3 separate regions of the Homo sapiens genome follow, and regions 2 and 3 are each reported to be linked to region 1. Evidence: microRNA targets listed by miRTarBase, many of them from high-throughput screens and not tested one by one. Region 1 holds a microRNA gene; each other region holds the end of a gene's coding sequence. Distances are between the middles of the regions.
Evidence for each region. The annotated mature microRNA hsa-miR-6878-3p reads CUGGCCUCUUCUUUCUCCUAG and lies in region 1 at 2,248-2,268, shown strand. An mRNA with a match to its seed (bases 2 to 7 or 8) in the 3' UTR can be bound and repressed. Matches are read on the target gene's strand: a 7mer-m8 pairs with bases 2 to 8, a 7mer-A1 pairs with bases 2 to 7 and ends in A, and an 8mer does both.

Region 1 (5,092 bases):
GAGTCTCACTCTGTCACCCAGGCTGGAGTGCAGTGGCGCGATCTTGGTTCACTGCAACTTCCACCTCCCGGGTTCAAGTGATTCTCCTGCCTCAGCCTCCTGAGTAGCTGGGATTACAGACACACGCCACCATGCCTGGCTAGTTTTGTATGTTTTAGCAGAGACAGGGTTTCACCATGTTGGCCAGACTGGCCTCGAACTCCTGACCTCAGATGATCCGCCTGCCTTGACCTCCTGAAGTGTTGGGGTTACAGGCATGAGCTGCTGTGCCCAGCCTTTTTTTTTAAGCTTGTTACTTTTTAGTGGTCACCCCCAAAATCTAGGATCCCCATTTTGTGGTAGTTATTCCTAGAAGAACCATACCGGCTTTCCTACCAGCTTTTGTGAGGAAGAGCTCAGAGATCTAGGGGTTAAGGGAGAAGTTTATGAACTTGTGAACCCCTTTTTTGTGAACCCAGGTGTTCTGGCACTCCAGCACCCATGTCCTGGGGGCAGCAGCTGAACAATTCCTAGGTGCTGTTCTCTGCAGAGGTCCAAGTACAGAATATGGCTTTTACCATGATTTCTTCCTGGGAAAGGAGAGGTGAGTAATGAAAGGAAGGAGGAGAATGATTCTGGGATGGTTTCTGAGGCTCTTTTCAGGGGCCTTGGGCATGCTCCATTTGGATGAGGAAGCTGGAGGAGAAGGGTTTCTCTAGGTCTCAACTATGACATTAGTATCTCCTTCTGTGCTAGTCCATGTCCCTCTTCTAACTTTGCTTGAAATTTACCTTCTTGGCTGGTGCACATGTAGTCCCAGCTACTTGGGAGGCTGAGGTGGAAGGATCACTTGAGCCTGGGAGGTTGAGGCTGTGGTGAGCCATGATCTTAACCACTGCACCCAACTTGTGTGACACAGCAAGACACTTTCTCAAAAAAAAAACAAAAAGAAAAAGAAGAAACAACTTACTTTGTTACTTGTTAGCTTTCATAAATTCAAGTTTTACTTAATCGCCCTCATTACTATTGTTCTAACTTTGTCTATCCAGATTTCCTGCATTCAACTTTTAACTTCATGCATAGAGCTTTTTCTCCAGCTGTAATATCTGTTACCTGATATCCTATTTATATTTTCTCTGAGTTTGTCTGTCTTTGCCTATAACTCTAGATTTCTCTTGAAGGACAGGACCTTACCCGCTAGCCAACAGGTGTGTCACCCAGGTGATTGATGCACCTCATAGGATGCAACCCAACCAATTCTCCTCTTTCCAGGACAATCCGGGGCTCAGAGCTGCCTGTTTTGGAGCGGATTTGCCAGGAACTTACAGCTGCTGCTCGACCCTTCCGGAGGCTAGAGGCTTCACGGGATCAGCTTCGCCAGTTGTTCAAGGTGGGGTGGAGGGAAGAGGTGGCTCTTCCAGGACATCTTTGTGGGAATAAACACTTTTCTTCAATCTCCCTTCTACCTTTTTCCAGGATAACCCCTTTAAGCTTCACTTGATTGAGGAGAAAGTGACAGGTCCAACAGCAACAGTATATGGGTAAGAGTTGTCAAGATTAAGGCAAACAGAGAGGTGGGGAAGCATTGAAGAAGGCCAGAAATGCGATAAGGGAAGAAAGATAGAAGGTAATTTGTGTTGCTCCAGAAAAAGAAATGGGAATGGGAATTGATTTTTTTTTTTTCTTTTTTTGAGACGGAGTCTTGGTCTGTCTCCCAGGCTGGAGTGCGGTAGCACGATCTCGGCTCACTGCAACCTCCGCCTCCTGGGTTCAAGTGATTCTCCTGCCTTAGCCTCCAGAGTGGCTGGGATTACAGGCATGTGCCACCATGCCTGGCTAGTTTTTTTTTTTTTTTTTTTTTTTGAGATGAAGTCTTGTTCTGTCACCCAGGCTGGAATGCAGTGGCGCGATCTCGGCTCACTGCATCTCTGCCTCCCGGGTTCAAACAATTCTTCTGCCTCAGCCTCCCGAGTAGCTGGAACTACAGGCATGCACCACCATGCCTAGCTAATTTTTATATTTTTAGTAGAGACGGGGTTTCACCATATTGTCCAGGCTGGTCTCGAACTCCTGACCACGTGATCCACCCACCTTGGCCTCCCAAAGTTCTGGGATTATAGACATGAGCCACCGCGCCCTGCCAGGGAATTGATTTTTATCTGCCATTGCCCTCTCTCAGTAGGACAGTTCCTTTCTCTTCACCTCTTCTGTCAGCTAAAGACCATGAGAGGGAGAAAGCTAGAAGCTGAAGATTCTGAAAATCACTAACTGGCCTCTTCTTTCTCCTAGGTGTGGCACATTGGTTGACCTTTGCCAGGGCCCCCACCTTCGGCATACTGGACAGATTGGAGGACTGAAGCTGCTATCGGTCAGTTGTGGGACAGAGTTAGGTTAAGATTCCTATTTTGAGCCGGGCATGGTGGCTCACGCTTGTAATCCCAGCACTTTGGGAGGCTGAGGCAGATGGATCATAAAGTCAGGAGTTTGAGACCAGCCTGGCCAATATGGTGAAACCCCGTCTCTACTAAAAATACAAAAATTAGCTGGGTGTGGTGGCACACACCTGTAGTCCTAGCTGCTCGGGAGGCTGAGACAGGAGAGTTGCCTGAACCTGGGAGGCGGAGGTTGTAGTGAGCCGAGACTGCACTACTGCACTCCAGCCTGGGCAACAGAGCGAGAGTCCATCTCAAAAAAAAAAAAAAAAAAATTCCTGGTTTCACTGGGATGAGCAGGAGAATCGGAAGGTGATACTTTCTGTCGGCACCCCCCTTTTTTTTTTTTGAGACCAAGTCTCTCGGTCGCCCAGGCTGGAGTGCAGTGGCGCGATCTTGGCTCACTGCAAGCTTCGCCTCCTGGATTCAAGCAATTCTCCTGCTTCAGCCTCCCGAGTAGCTGGGATAATAGGTGTGCACCACCATGCCCAGCTACTTTTTGTATTTTTAGTAGAGACAGGGTTTCACCATGTTGGCCAGGGTGATCTCAAGTGATCTTCCCTTCTCAGCCTCCCAAAGTGCTGGGATTACAGGCATGAGCCACTGAGCCTGGCCCTGTACTCTCATAAGCTGAGCGGGGAATACAGGAGAAAGAAACTTTGTCCCCACATTCTAAAAACCCGTTTGATGGCACACACTGGACAGCCTGCTAGGGCCCAGAAGCCAATTCAGATGCCCTAATATGATGTCAGTATTAAGGGGGGTGGAGGGGTGGAGCAGGAGGGTGTGAGCAAGCTGGATGGGTCATACAGGGAAGGGTTGTAGAGAGAGGGGGCGTGGTCCAGGAGGAAGATGAACACCATTTGACAGGCACAGGGAAAATACCTTTAGTAAAGGGCATGCTTTTTATGAAAATACCGTTCTGCATGGTGGCTCACGCCTATAATCCCAGCACTTTGGGAAGCCGAGGTGGGTGGACCACCTGAGGTCGGGAGTTCAAGACCGGCCTGACCAACATGGAGAAACCCCGTCTCTACTAAAAATACAAAATTAACTGGGCGTGGTGGCACATGCCTGTAATCCCAGCTACTTGTGAGGCTGAGGCAGGAGAATCACTTGAACCTGGGAGGTGGAGGTTGTGGCGATCCAAGATCGTGCCATTGCACTCTAGCCTGGGCAACAAGAGCAAAACTCCGTCTCAAAAAAAAAAAAAAGAAAAGAAAATACTGTTCTGGACAAGAAGAGTTACTAGATGGAATGGGATGAGTTACAAGGGAGCAAGGGGAAATGCAGATGTGTAGAGCAAAAAGCTCTGAACTTAGACTGGGCATGGTGGCTCATGCCTATAATCCCAGCACTTTGGGAGGCCAAGGTGGGTGGATCACTTGAGATCAGCCTGGCCAACATGGCAAAACCCCATGGCGCGGTGGCCTTGGGTAAATCTTACTTATTTTCCCCATCTATAAAATGAGGCTATTAATTCCTTTTTGTCCTACCAGTAAATTCACCTCATAAAGATAATGAAAACCAGGCCAGGCATGGTGGCTCACACCTGTAATCCCAGCACTTTGGGGAGGGTGAGGCAGGCGGATCACTTGAGGTCAGGAGTTCGAGACCAGCCTGGCCAACATGGTGAAACCCTGTCTCTACTAAAAATACACAAATTAGCTGGGTGTGCTGGCCTACGCCTGTAATCCCAGCTACAAAAAAGGCTGAGGCAGGAGAGTCACTTGAACTCTGCCAGGAGGCAGAGGTTGCAGTGAGCTGAGATTGTGCCACTGCATTCCAGCCTGGGCCACGGAGCGAGACAACATCTCAAAAAAAAAAAAAAAAAAAAAGATAATGAAAACCAACTAATTCAGGAAAAAGGAAAAGTTAAAAAGTGCTGTAAAATACAGACTGTCGGCCAGGTGCGGTGGTTCACACGTGTAATCCCAACACTTTGGGAGGCCAAGTTGGGCGGATCACTTGAGCTCAGGAGTTCAAGACCAGCCTGGCCAACATGGTGAAACCTCGTCACTACTAAAAATAAAAAATTAGCTGGGCGTGGTGGCATGCACCTGTAGTCCCAGCTACTCGGGAGGCTGAGGCAGGAGAATTGCTTGAACTGGGAGGCAGAGGTTGCAGTGAGCCAAGATTGCACCACTGCACTCCAGCCTGGGCAACAGAGTGAGACTCTGTTTCAAAAAATATACATATAGGGGCTGGGCGTGGTGGCTCACGCCTGTAATCCTAACACTTTGGGAGGCTGAGGCGAGTGAATCACGAGGTCCAGAGATCGAGACCATCCTGGCTAACACCGTGAAACCCCGTCTCTACTAAAAATACAAAAAATTAGCCAGGTGTGGCCGGGCGCAGTGGCTCACGCCTGTAATCCCATCACTTTGGGAGGCTGAGGCAGGCGGATCATGAGGTCAGGAGATCGAGACCATCCTGGCTAACACGGTGAAACCCTGTCTACTAAAAATACAAAAAATTAGCTGGGCGAGGTGGCGGGCGCCTGTAGTCCCAGCTACTTGGGAGGCTGAGGCAGGAGAATGGCGTGAACCCTGGGGGGTGGAGCCTGCAGTGAGCCAAGATCACGCCACTGCACTCCAGCCTGGGCGACAGCGAGACTCCGTCTCAAAAAAAGAAAAAAAAAATTAGTCGAGTGTGGTGGTGGTGGCCTGTAGTCCCAGCTA
Region 2 (5,092 bases), not on the chromosome of region 1:
TAGAGATGGGGTTTCACCATGTTGCCCAGGCTGGTCTTGAACTTCTGGTCTCAAGCGATCTGCCCACCTTGGCCTCCCAAAGAGTTGGGATTACAGGTGTGAGCCACTGCACCAGTCCTTTTATTGCTTCTGTTGTTGACTTTGGTTTTTTGGGGGCAGCTCTCAGGTACTACCCTACTGGTGCATGACAGAAGCCCTAACACATTTCCTGTTATCTGGTGGACATCTGTGATTTTAGCTTAGGGATACAGCGTTAGAATAATGCATTTGCTCTGTGTGCCCTCTGCTGGTACTGCATGAGCAGACCACACATGGAATGCCTGCATGGGTGAGAATCTGGTCTCACCTCCCAGGGCAAGCCCCTTGCAGACTTAACAGAGTGGTGATTCTCCAAAGGCAGCGATGGTCAACCATGTTAGAATCACCCAGGGAACCGTGAAAATAAAAATGCCTGGTCATGGGCTTCGACAATGGGGTTTTTAAAACACTCTCCAGGAGATTCTACACATAAAGCCAGTGTTAAGAACCTATTCTTTGGGCAGAAAATTGGCCCAGGAACACAAAGTCCACAGAACCATGTGTCACTCTGGTGTCTTCTGTTCTAGTAATGTATTTCAGAAATTCCCAGCCTGCCTGAATCTCAGAATTGGCTTCAAGCTGGTCAAAAAAACAGATCCTGGAAATCCACCCCAGACATAATCAGAATATCCTGGGGTGAGGCTCACTCAGGTCATTACTTACAACCCAACAGAGAGAATTTTTGGTTTTAATGAGGTTAAGGTCAAATCATTATGACTTCTTAAGACATTTTTTAGCCACAGGCTTTATCTCTTCATGGGGAAGGGAGTCACAGTCACTGAAGGAACTGACAGGCAGGTGAAGGCAAGGTACAGAAGGAATGAACAGCCACGTGTAACTGCTATGCACATGTCTCTTCTATATAATTGAATCTTCACTACACTTCTTGAGCATAAATAGTAAAACCCTGTTATACCGAGAGGATACTGAAGGGGAGGCGGTTAGTTCTCTTTGCAGGCATCTAGGGAGAAAGCCTTCCAGGCAGAGGGAACTGTCAATGCAAAGGCCTTAAGGCTGGAATATTCTCGATTACTGGAGAACAGCAAGGCAGTCGTGACCTGGGGGAATGATCTCCACAGAGGTGCGGATGAGGGAGGGAAGGGGAGGGTGGATTAGGCCATCAGCCTTCACAGCAGTGACGTGATTCTGTTTTTAAGCATCACTTTGACAGCTGCAAAAACGGACTCAAGTAAAGCAAGGATGGAAGCACAGGACAGAAGCATCGAAGTGAAGGGCCAGGCGTGGTGGCTCATACCTGTAATCCCAGCACTTTGGGAGGCCGAGGCAGGTGGATCCCTCGAGTTCAGGAGTTCGAGACCAGTCTGGCCAACATGGCAAAACCACATCTCTACTAAAAGCAGAAAAATTAGCTGGGCATGGTGGTGGGTGCCTGTAATCCCAGCTACTCAGGAGGCTGAGGCAGGAGAATCGCTTGAACCTGAGAGGCGGAGTCTGCAGTGAGCCAAGATCACACCACTGCAACCCAGTCTGGGTGACAGAGTAAGACTCCATCTCAAATTTAAAAAAAAGGAAAAGTAACCACTGTTGACAAGAATGTAGAGAAACAGGAACCCTTGTCTGTTGCTGGTGAGAATGTAAAATGGTACAGCTGCTGTGGAAAAGTGGCAGGTCCTCAAAAATAAACAGAATTACCACAGGATCCAGTTAATCCACTTCTCAGTACGTACCCAAAACAACTGAAAGCAGGGACTCAAACAGATACTCGTATACCAGTGTTCACAGCAATAGCCAAATGTTCATTCATCAGTAGTCAAAAGGTGACGACAACTCAAATGTCCATCAACAGATGGACAAACAAAATGTGGCACACACAGAGAATACACACTGCACCCGTAAATATATTTAACCATAAAAAAGAAATAGCACTGACATATGCTACAACACGGATGCACCTTGACAACACTACACCAAGTCAAAGAAGCCAGATACAGGCCAGCCGCACTGGCTCACGCCTATAATCCCAGCACTGTGGGAGGCCGAGGTGGGTGATCACTTGAGGTCAGAGATTCCAGGTCAGCCTGGACAACATGGTGAAACCCCATCTCTACTAAAAATACAAAAATTAGCCAGGCTTGGCGTCAGGCACCTATAATCCCAGCTACTTGGGAGGCTGAGGCAGAATCATTTGAGCTGGTGAGGCGGAAGTTGCAGTGAGTGGACATCGCGCCACTGCTCTCTGGCCTGGGAAACAGAGCGAGACTTCAACTCAAAAAAAAAAAAAAAAAAGAGCCAGATACAAAGGGTCACATATTGTATGATTCCATTTATATGAAATATCCAGAACAGGTGAATCCAGAGGGACAGAAAGCAGGTTAGTGGTTGCCAAGGGCTGGAAAAAGAAGGAAATTATTGCTCAATGGGTATATTAGTTCTGTTTGGGATAATGAAAATGTTCTGGAAATAGATGGTGGTGACGGTTGTACAACATTTTTTGTTTTGTTTGTTTTTGAGATAGTCTGGCTGTCTCCCAGGCTGGAGTGCATTGGTGCAATCTCGGCTCACTGCAACCTCTGCCTCCCGGGTTCAAGCTTCTCAAGTAGCTGGGAATACAAGTGCCCACCACCATGCCCAGCTAATTTTTGTATTTTCAGTAGAGACAGGGTTTTGCCATGTTGGCCAGGCTGGTCTTGAACTCCTGACTTCAAGTGATCCACACGCCTCAGCCTCCCAAAGTGCTGGGATTACAGGCATGAGACAGTGTGCCCAGCCTGTACAACATTGTTAATATACTTAATGTCCCTGAATTGCACACTTAAAAATGATTAAAAGGATAAATTTGTTAGGTGTATCTTGGTATGGTTAAGAAAAATGGAAGGCTACACAATAAAAAAAAATATTTTTTTTTTGAGACGGAGTCTCACTCTGTCGCCCAGGCTGGAGTGCAGTGGCGTGATCTCGGCTCACTGCAAACTCCGCCTCCCAGGTTCACACCATTGTCCTGCCTCAGCCTCCCGAGTAGCTGGGACTACAGGCACCTGCCACCACGCCCAGCTAATTTTTTTGTATTTTTTAGTGGAGACACGGTTTCACCCTGTTAGCGAGGATGGCCTCGATCTCCTGACCTCGTGATCCGCCACCTTGACCTCCCAACGTGCTGGGATTACAGGTGTGAGCCACCGCCCCCAGCGATAAAACATTCTTATTGACTTTCGAGTGGCAAAATAATAAAGATCATGCCTTCCTTCCTCTTTACTGTGTTACAAATTGTATAATGAACATATATTATTAATTATGTGGGGCAATGTATATAACTGGCTTAAGTTTATAAAATAACGTACCAGCATCCGGTGCATTTGGCTTTATTACACTGCAGGGCCATCCAAAGCAAGAGCCTCTAGACCTCTGGGTGGTGAACAAATCTCAACTGGGGTTTCGTGCCTACCTGGACGACATCTGCTCGTCAATGTGTAGTTAACATCCTGACAGACCCTTCTGCCGCTGGATATGTGAGGGGCACAGCACAGGGCTCTGGAAGTCCCTGCTGACTGCTCGAAGCCTTTCTCCCTGCTAAAACCTCTGACCAAATGCTTAATAATATCTGCTGTAGGCTGTTGAGTCTGCCACACGTTTGACATTTATTGTTTATTCCCACACCCATCCCATGAAACAAGCAGGACTTTCCATTTTACAGATGTGAAAACCAAGATTCAAAGAGACTCAATAACCTGCTCCAGGACAAATGACAGAACTGAGACTTCTGACTCCAAATCTTACGCTCCCCCGCCACACCTCTTTGCCTTTCTCTTTCACACCAATGGACTCTATGGGTGACCTTGGCATAGGTTCTTCTAAGAACTGGCTCTTAACAAAAACTTCTGGCCATTATCTGACTGAATGTCACAAACAAGTGCTGTAAGAACTTGCTTAGAGCCTTTTTCCTAAACCTGTACACCAGCTCTTGCCTTGTGAATTTATTCACCACAAAACACATGTTCCCAGGGGCCCAGGCAAAGTCTCCAAGTACCCAGTCCCCTTTCTTCAGCCTTGCCCACACCCTCAGCCTTCCTGTTAATCCAGGCGACCCAGGGTTACCCAGAGGTCCAGGTCCCAGTTGTTCACTTGAGCATCTGATGTACCCCAAACACCTGTGTGAAACGCTCTCTGTCCAGGATGCGTCCATAGCGCAGGGTGACGTAGAAGGTCTGTTTCCCACTGTACCGCTGGATACGCACAAACATCTCCTGAGGCCGGTCCTTGGTTTCTGTCAGGGGAATCACATCTGCCATGGGACAGTATGTGTCCTGCCGCCAGCCCCAGAAGTTCAGATGGGCCACCCGCAGCATGGTGCCAGACTCATTCAGATACAGGATACCAACCAGTCTCCGTAAGAAATAGCTCATCCAGCACAGCATGGTCAGGGCAAAGCCCGATATCCCACTCATGAGGCACACGGTGTTGAGAGTGAGGAGGCCCTGGGAGTACAAGTAATAGCCTGGTGGCAAAGCTACCACTGTCAGGGCAGTCTGTGCCAACTTCAGTCGTGACAGGAACCCGAAGGTTCTGATGGCATCAAAACGGTAAAACATCCAGAATTTCTCAGTCTCTGCGTTTGGTAGTTTCTCCTTCGAGATGGGTGAACTGCTGCCCACCCACCTCTTAGGATCCTCCTGCCCACTGCAGCACCACAGCCCATGGAGAGGCCTTTCCCACACAGCTTTTCCCCGAAACCTACGCACAGCTCGGAGAAGGGCAGCCTGAAAGGGAGACAGTAGACCATTTCTCTCATGGAACTCAACCACATTAATCACACGGTGAACATCTGCAAAGCACCATACTCTAAGGCTTCTGCCAATCCTGCAAGGTAACCGTTATTGCCAGACGAGGGAAGGGTAAAGCCAGATGCTATCTCATGTGGGCATCACAACAGCTATCTAAGATAGTTATCACTATTTCCACTTTACCACTAGGGAAACTAAGCCCAGAGAGGGTAAGATATTTACCAAAGATCACACAGTCAGTGAGTGCAGCAGAGTCCTCCTTCCACCAGGCAATT
Region 3 (5,092 bases), 11 Mb from region 1:
AGTAAATCTTTGCTGGATGAATTTTGATAACTTTTCCTCTGGTCTCTGATCTCAAGACTTGCTTCTTCAAAAGACTAAGGGAATGCACCTGGTAATAGGGTTTGAGAGTATATAAGAGGTCTAAGGTGATGATGCCTTCAAATTACTTCCATGAATATCTAATATTCTGATATCCTAATATTTTTTCCAGCTTAATACCAAAACATCCCCAGCAACCAACCAGGCAGCTGGCCAAGAGGAAAAAGGTGAGTGGGGTTGGGCTAGGCAGTTTGTAGAGCAGGTGACTGTAGAGACATAAAGACAAGTAGGGTGAGTCTGGAATTTCCTAAAGTCAGACATGAAAGGAATAAGAATGTGGATAAGTGAAACAAAGTACCAGTTTGGAACTACAGTACTATATCTATAGGCTTCCTTCTATTTTTCCTAGAAAGTAAACGATCAGTATTTCCTCCTTGATTTTAGAAACTGGGTCTGGAGTGTTGGGGGGAGAGAGGTACAAGATAAGAAGAAACTCATCAAAAGTCCCAGCATTATCTCCATCAGAAACTGAGAGAAAGCTGAGGAAAGTGAGTGTGCATTGGAACTTGAACTGTAGGATTTATGAATAAGTGATGAAAGAAGACATTTGTTGTTTGGTCCAAGAGTAGCAGAGCTCCCCTAAGTAACTATAGCTAATTCCCAGCCTAAGTACCTTGACTCAGACTTCTAGGGGAATTATCAGGCATTCATAATCCTAGCAAAAATTTGGGGACCCCACAGAGTCTGGCACAAGGTGGACCTTACCCACTGTATTGGGGGCCTGGAGAAAGGGTCTAGAGCAGGTCAGATTAACTCATTAATGAGTCTCCCAACTATCTGCAGGAAAAGCTGGCAATGTCAAGAAGGCGGAGGAGGAGGAGGAGATTGACATTGATCTGACAGCACCAGAAACAGAGAAGGCTGCCCTTGCTATTCAGGGCAAGTTCCGGCGATTTCAGAAAAGGAAAAAGGATCCCAGCTCCTGAATGGCCAGGCTTGCCCTTCACCTTCACCTTCATGCTGGTCCCTTCTCTCCCCTTCTCCACACCCATGTATCTTTATCCCTTGTCCCTCTAGCCTTTCCTTGAGGCAAGTTCAACCTTTATATACTCTTGTATCTGGCCCCCTCAAGCCATCACAGAAGTAGAGGCACAAGAGAGGTGGAGAAGATGAAGACTTCAATCAGCAGTCACTAGTCTAAGGGTGGAACAATTTCTTCTTGGTATAAGGTTCTTTGATCAGTAGCTATGCCTGCCCTGTAGGGCTAAACAAGAGGCTTCGAGGCTGAGAGATCTCCCCAAAGAACAATGTGGGAAGGAGGGGAAGGCTTTCAGAGTAGGGTGCCTGAGGGTGGGACATATGCACTGTTCTGCTAGTTACGGCATTCACACTTTAGGTAACATTTTTTTTCCCCTTCAGATCCTTCTGCACCAACTCCAACTTCCCCTCCCAGGATCTAAGCCACAGTGGGGACTGGAGCCTCGTTTTCCCCCTAGGCAGACCTAAATCAAGCAGCTTACCACAATAGTGCATGCTGAGTAGATTAGTTCCAAGGAAGGGAGACTGGAATGCTGGTGTCAAGGAAAAGCCTCCCTCATCATCTAGTCTAAGACCATAACGGGCAGAAGCATAAGAGGTTCCAGGGCCATAGGAGAATGAGAAGTAGGGCACATATAGGGAGGAAAGAAAAGTGAAGAAGGGGGAAATCTCTGAATTTTTTTACTGCTGGGAAAAGTGTACTACATGAAGGATGCTTGGGGCTTTGCTAACCTGCTCACCGCTAACCCTCCAAGTCTAACCATCCCCAGAGGCCACACAAACCAAGTGACTCCTGTAGTTCCCATTTGCCCCACTATGGAGTCAGGGCAAAAGTGGAATAGCCACTCCATGTGATTTTAGCATGTTTAATCATTTTAACAATAAACCACCCCACAAATGGGGTCATTTAACCTCTACTAATGTTTTTTTCTTGGGAGGAATGTGAGTATAAGCCTGAGCTGGCCTCAGGGAGTGGGGTGGAGAAGCAACTGCGTTGACTGCGTGGTAGCGCAAGAAACTAACACTGCCTGAGCAATTTTCAGACTGAAGCCAACCCTCCCTTTCCCCCACCCCTACTGACCTTGCCCTCACCTTGATTTGCCACCCACATTGTCTCTGTGTTGCTGTCACCACCCCCAGGGTGCACTTGCAAGAGTGCTCATTTTTCCTTTCTCCTTCCAGCTGAGAGCGTGCTGGGTACACATCCCTCTGAAAACAAACCTGGTCTTCCTTGCTCCGGATTCCCAAATGACCTATCCTAGATTTCCTTCTTGCTTTGTCTTCCTCCCACATTCTCCCCTCCCCTCCCTCTTGTTTATCAGATGCAAGGAAAGGAAAAGACTGGTCACTAGAGAGCACCACTGTTACATTAAAATTTTAATCCACTAATTACATAAAATTATGGCTTTCAAGTAGCTTAAATTGCTGAGAAATTACCTCTATATGCTAAAACCGGAAGCCAAATGTTTAAAGATGGAGCAAAGAATGATCTATTTTTTTTTTTTTTTGAGATGGAGTTTCGCTCTTGTTGCCCAGGCTGGAGTACAATGGTGCAGTCTGGGCTCACCGCAACCTCCGCCTCCCAGGTTCAAGCGATTCTCCTGCCTCACCCTCCCGAGTAGCTGGGACTACAGGCATGTGCCACCACGCCTGGCTAGTTTTCTATTTTTAGTAGAGATGGGGTTTCTCCATGTTGGTCAGGCTGGTCTCAAACTCCCAACCTCAGGCGATCTGCCTGCCTCGGCCTCCCAAAGTGCTGGGGTTACAGGTGTGAGCCACAGCACCCGGCCTTTTTTCCTTTTCAATTGTTTTTGTTCTGGTAAAATATACATAACAAAATTTTTCATCCTAACCATTTTTAAGTGTACAGTTTAATAGCATCAAATACATTCAATAATACTGTGTAACTATCATCGCTATCCATCTCTGTAACTCTTTCCATCTTGTAAAATTGAAACTCTACACCTATATCCTTTAGACAGTAATCCCCATCTCCCCTCTTCCCAGCCTCTGGCAACCACCATTCTACTTCCTATTTCTAAGTCCCCTTACTTCTTCATATTTACCCTTCCCTTCTTGATTTAAGAATACAGAAGTCAGGCCGGGCCCAGTGGCCCATGCCTGTAATCCCAGCACTTTGGGAGGCCAAGGTGTGTGGATGACCTGAGGTCAGGAGTTCAAGACCAGCCTGGCCAACATGGTAAAACCCTGTCTCTACTTAAAAAATATAAAATTAGCTGGGCATGATGGCAAATGCCTGTAATCCCAGCTACTTGGGAGGCTGAGGCAGGAGAATCGCTTGAACCCAGGAGGCAGAGGTTGCAGTGAGCAGAGATGGCACCACTACACTGCACTCCAGCCTGGGTGACAAGAGTGAAACTCTGTTTCAAAAAATATATATATATGTATATATATATGTATGTATATGTCAGCTGGAGGCCAAGTGCGGTGGCTCATGCCTGTAATCCCAGCCCTTTGGGAGGCCAAGATGGGTGGATCACCTGAGGTTGGGAGTTCAAGAACAGCCTGACCAACATAGAGAAACCTCATCTCTACTAAAAATACAAAATTAGCCTGGCGTGGTGGCACATCTTTTTAATCCCAGCTACTTGGGAGGCTGAGCAGAAGAATCACTTGAACCCAGGAGGCAGAGGTTGTGGAGCTGAGATCATGCCATTGCACTCCAGCCTTGGCAACCAGAGTGAAACTCCATCTCAAAAAAAAAAAAAGTCAGCTGGGCACGATGGTGCATGCCTATAATGCCAGCTACTTGGGAGGCTGAGGCAGGAGGATCGTTTGAGCCCAGGAGTTCAAGGCTGCCATGAGCTATGATCACACCACTGCACTCCAGCCTGGGTGACAGAGGGAGACCCTGTCTCTGAAAAAAAAACGTGTATGTGTGTGTAAACCATGTGGCAGCTATGAATGGGAAACAAGGAACAATATCCCTAGAAGGTAACCTATAGCTCAAAGTTTACTCATGCGTAGCAAGCCCGTTGCCATAGGATATGAGGAGAATTGACCAGTAATTCATTGGAAGGTCCTATGTTAAAGGAATTCCCCCCTTCTTCTGATGCCAGGGAAAAGGAGGAAATTTTACTGTTACTTTTGGAATCTGTTCTGAGTACAGTATGGTAATGATGGTGAACTTTGGTCCCAGCCTCATAGGCAAATAAAAGGATAACCTCATTGCCACACCTGCTGTGTGTCCAGTGTGTCTGATAAAGCTGGAGTATTCCCCCTTCCCTTGTTCCATGGACATAAGATGAGAATTGATGGGTGCTGTACCTGGTCTGCCCCTGTGGGTACTAGGGTAAGGCAGGGGCTTCCTCTTTTTGGTGAAGTGAACTTTTGTGGCTGGTGCTAAGGCAATGCTGGAGTCCTTTGCCACCAGCTCCTCTCTTGCAGACTCTGCTGCTTGGGGGTATCTGTTTATTTGTTTTTTGCCACACTGATCTGGAGCACAGTGCTGAAATGATTTTTCCCTTTACCATCTCTCGCTTTAAAAATGTTATGCTTGTTCTCATGCTCATACTCATATTTTTAATAAAGGGCATGGTAGCAAAAACATAGTCATTGCTTTGGGAAAGAGCTCTAACCAGAAAGAGAGACTTGGGCATCTTTTGCTGAACAAATGGTAGTTCTCAATGAAGGTTCTGAACACTGTTTTCTCTCTGCCATGCTACTTATTCCTATCATGGGCACTCAAACTGAGCCTCTTTTCTCTAGCATGCCTATAATTCCTCCTTGGGGCCCTGGGCTGAGGCTGGGATCTTGGGGCTCTAGAACCTTGCTTCACTTCCCTGTCCCTCTAGTACCTACTACTGAAGAACTAATCCTCAAATACTAATCACTGAGGAATTATTCTTGAGTGCTTTCTTTTGTGGAGCAAAAACTGAGTATTTGGGGAATGGGTGAATGCCTTTATAAATGGCTTAGCAGAAAATACAAGCATAAGAAACAGTCAAGGAAGAAAGTTAAAAAGAAGAAACTCATTTTTCTTATATTCAGCACTTCCGACACCAAATGTTTGAGT

Region 2: the mRNA of TMEM186 is a reported target of hsa-miR-6878-3p. The part of its 3' UTR that is shown has no 7-base or 8-base seed match.
Region 3: miRTarBase lists PCP4L1 as a target of hsa-miR-6878-3p. Seed matches in the 3' UTR shown: 7mer-m8 at 1,826-1,832.

What each region holds. Positions count from the first base shown.
Region 1 is chr1:150,490,143-150,495,234 of GRCh38, forward strand. It overlaps MIR6878 (microRNA 6878), which reads left to right and starts at 2,203; the gene lies at 2,203-2,268. TARS2 (threonyl-tRNA synthetase 2, mitochondrial) reads left to right here. Exons shown (of 18, transcript NM_025150.5): 4 at 459-583; 5 at 1,252-1,369; 6 at 1,456-1,520; 7 at 2,269-2,347.
Region 2 is chr16:8,791,798-8,796,889 of GRCh38, forward strand. It overlaps TMEM186 (transmembrane protein 186), which reads right to left. Exons shown (of 2, transcript NM_015421.4): 2 at 3,383-4,793. The coding sequence ends at 4,155. Among named protein-coding and RNA genes, the nearest start is that of TMEM186, 3.3 kb to the right of the region's middle. RefSeq lists a silencer at 183-362.
Region 3 is chr1:161,283,478-161,288,569 of GRCh38, forward strand. It overlaps PCP4L1 (Purkinje cell protein 4 like 1), which reads left to right. Exons shown (of 3, transcript NM_001102566.2): 2 at 191-245; 3 at 862-1,973. The coding sequence ends at 1,004. It overlaps LOC105371472 (a long non-coding RNA gene), which reads right to left and starts at 866. Exons shown (of 2, transcript XR_922213.2): 1 at 1-866.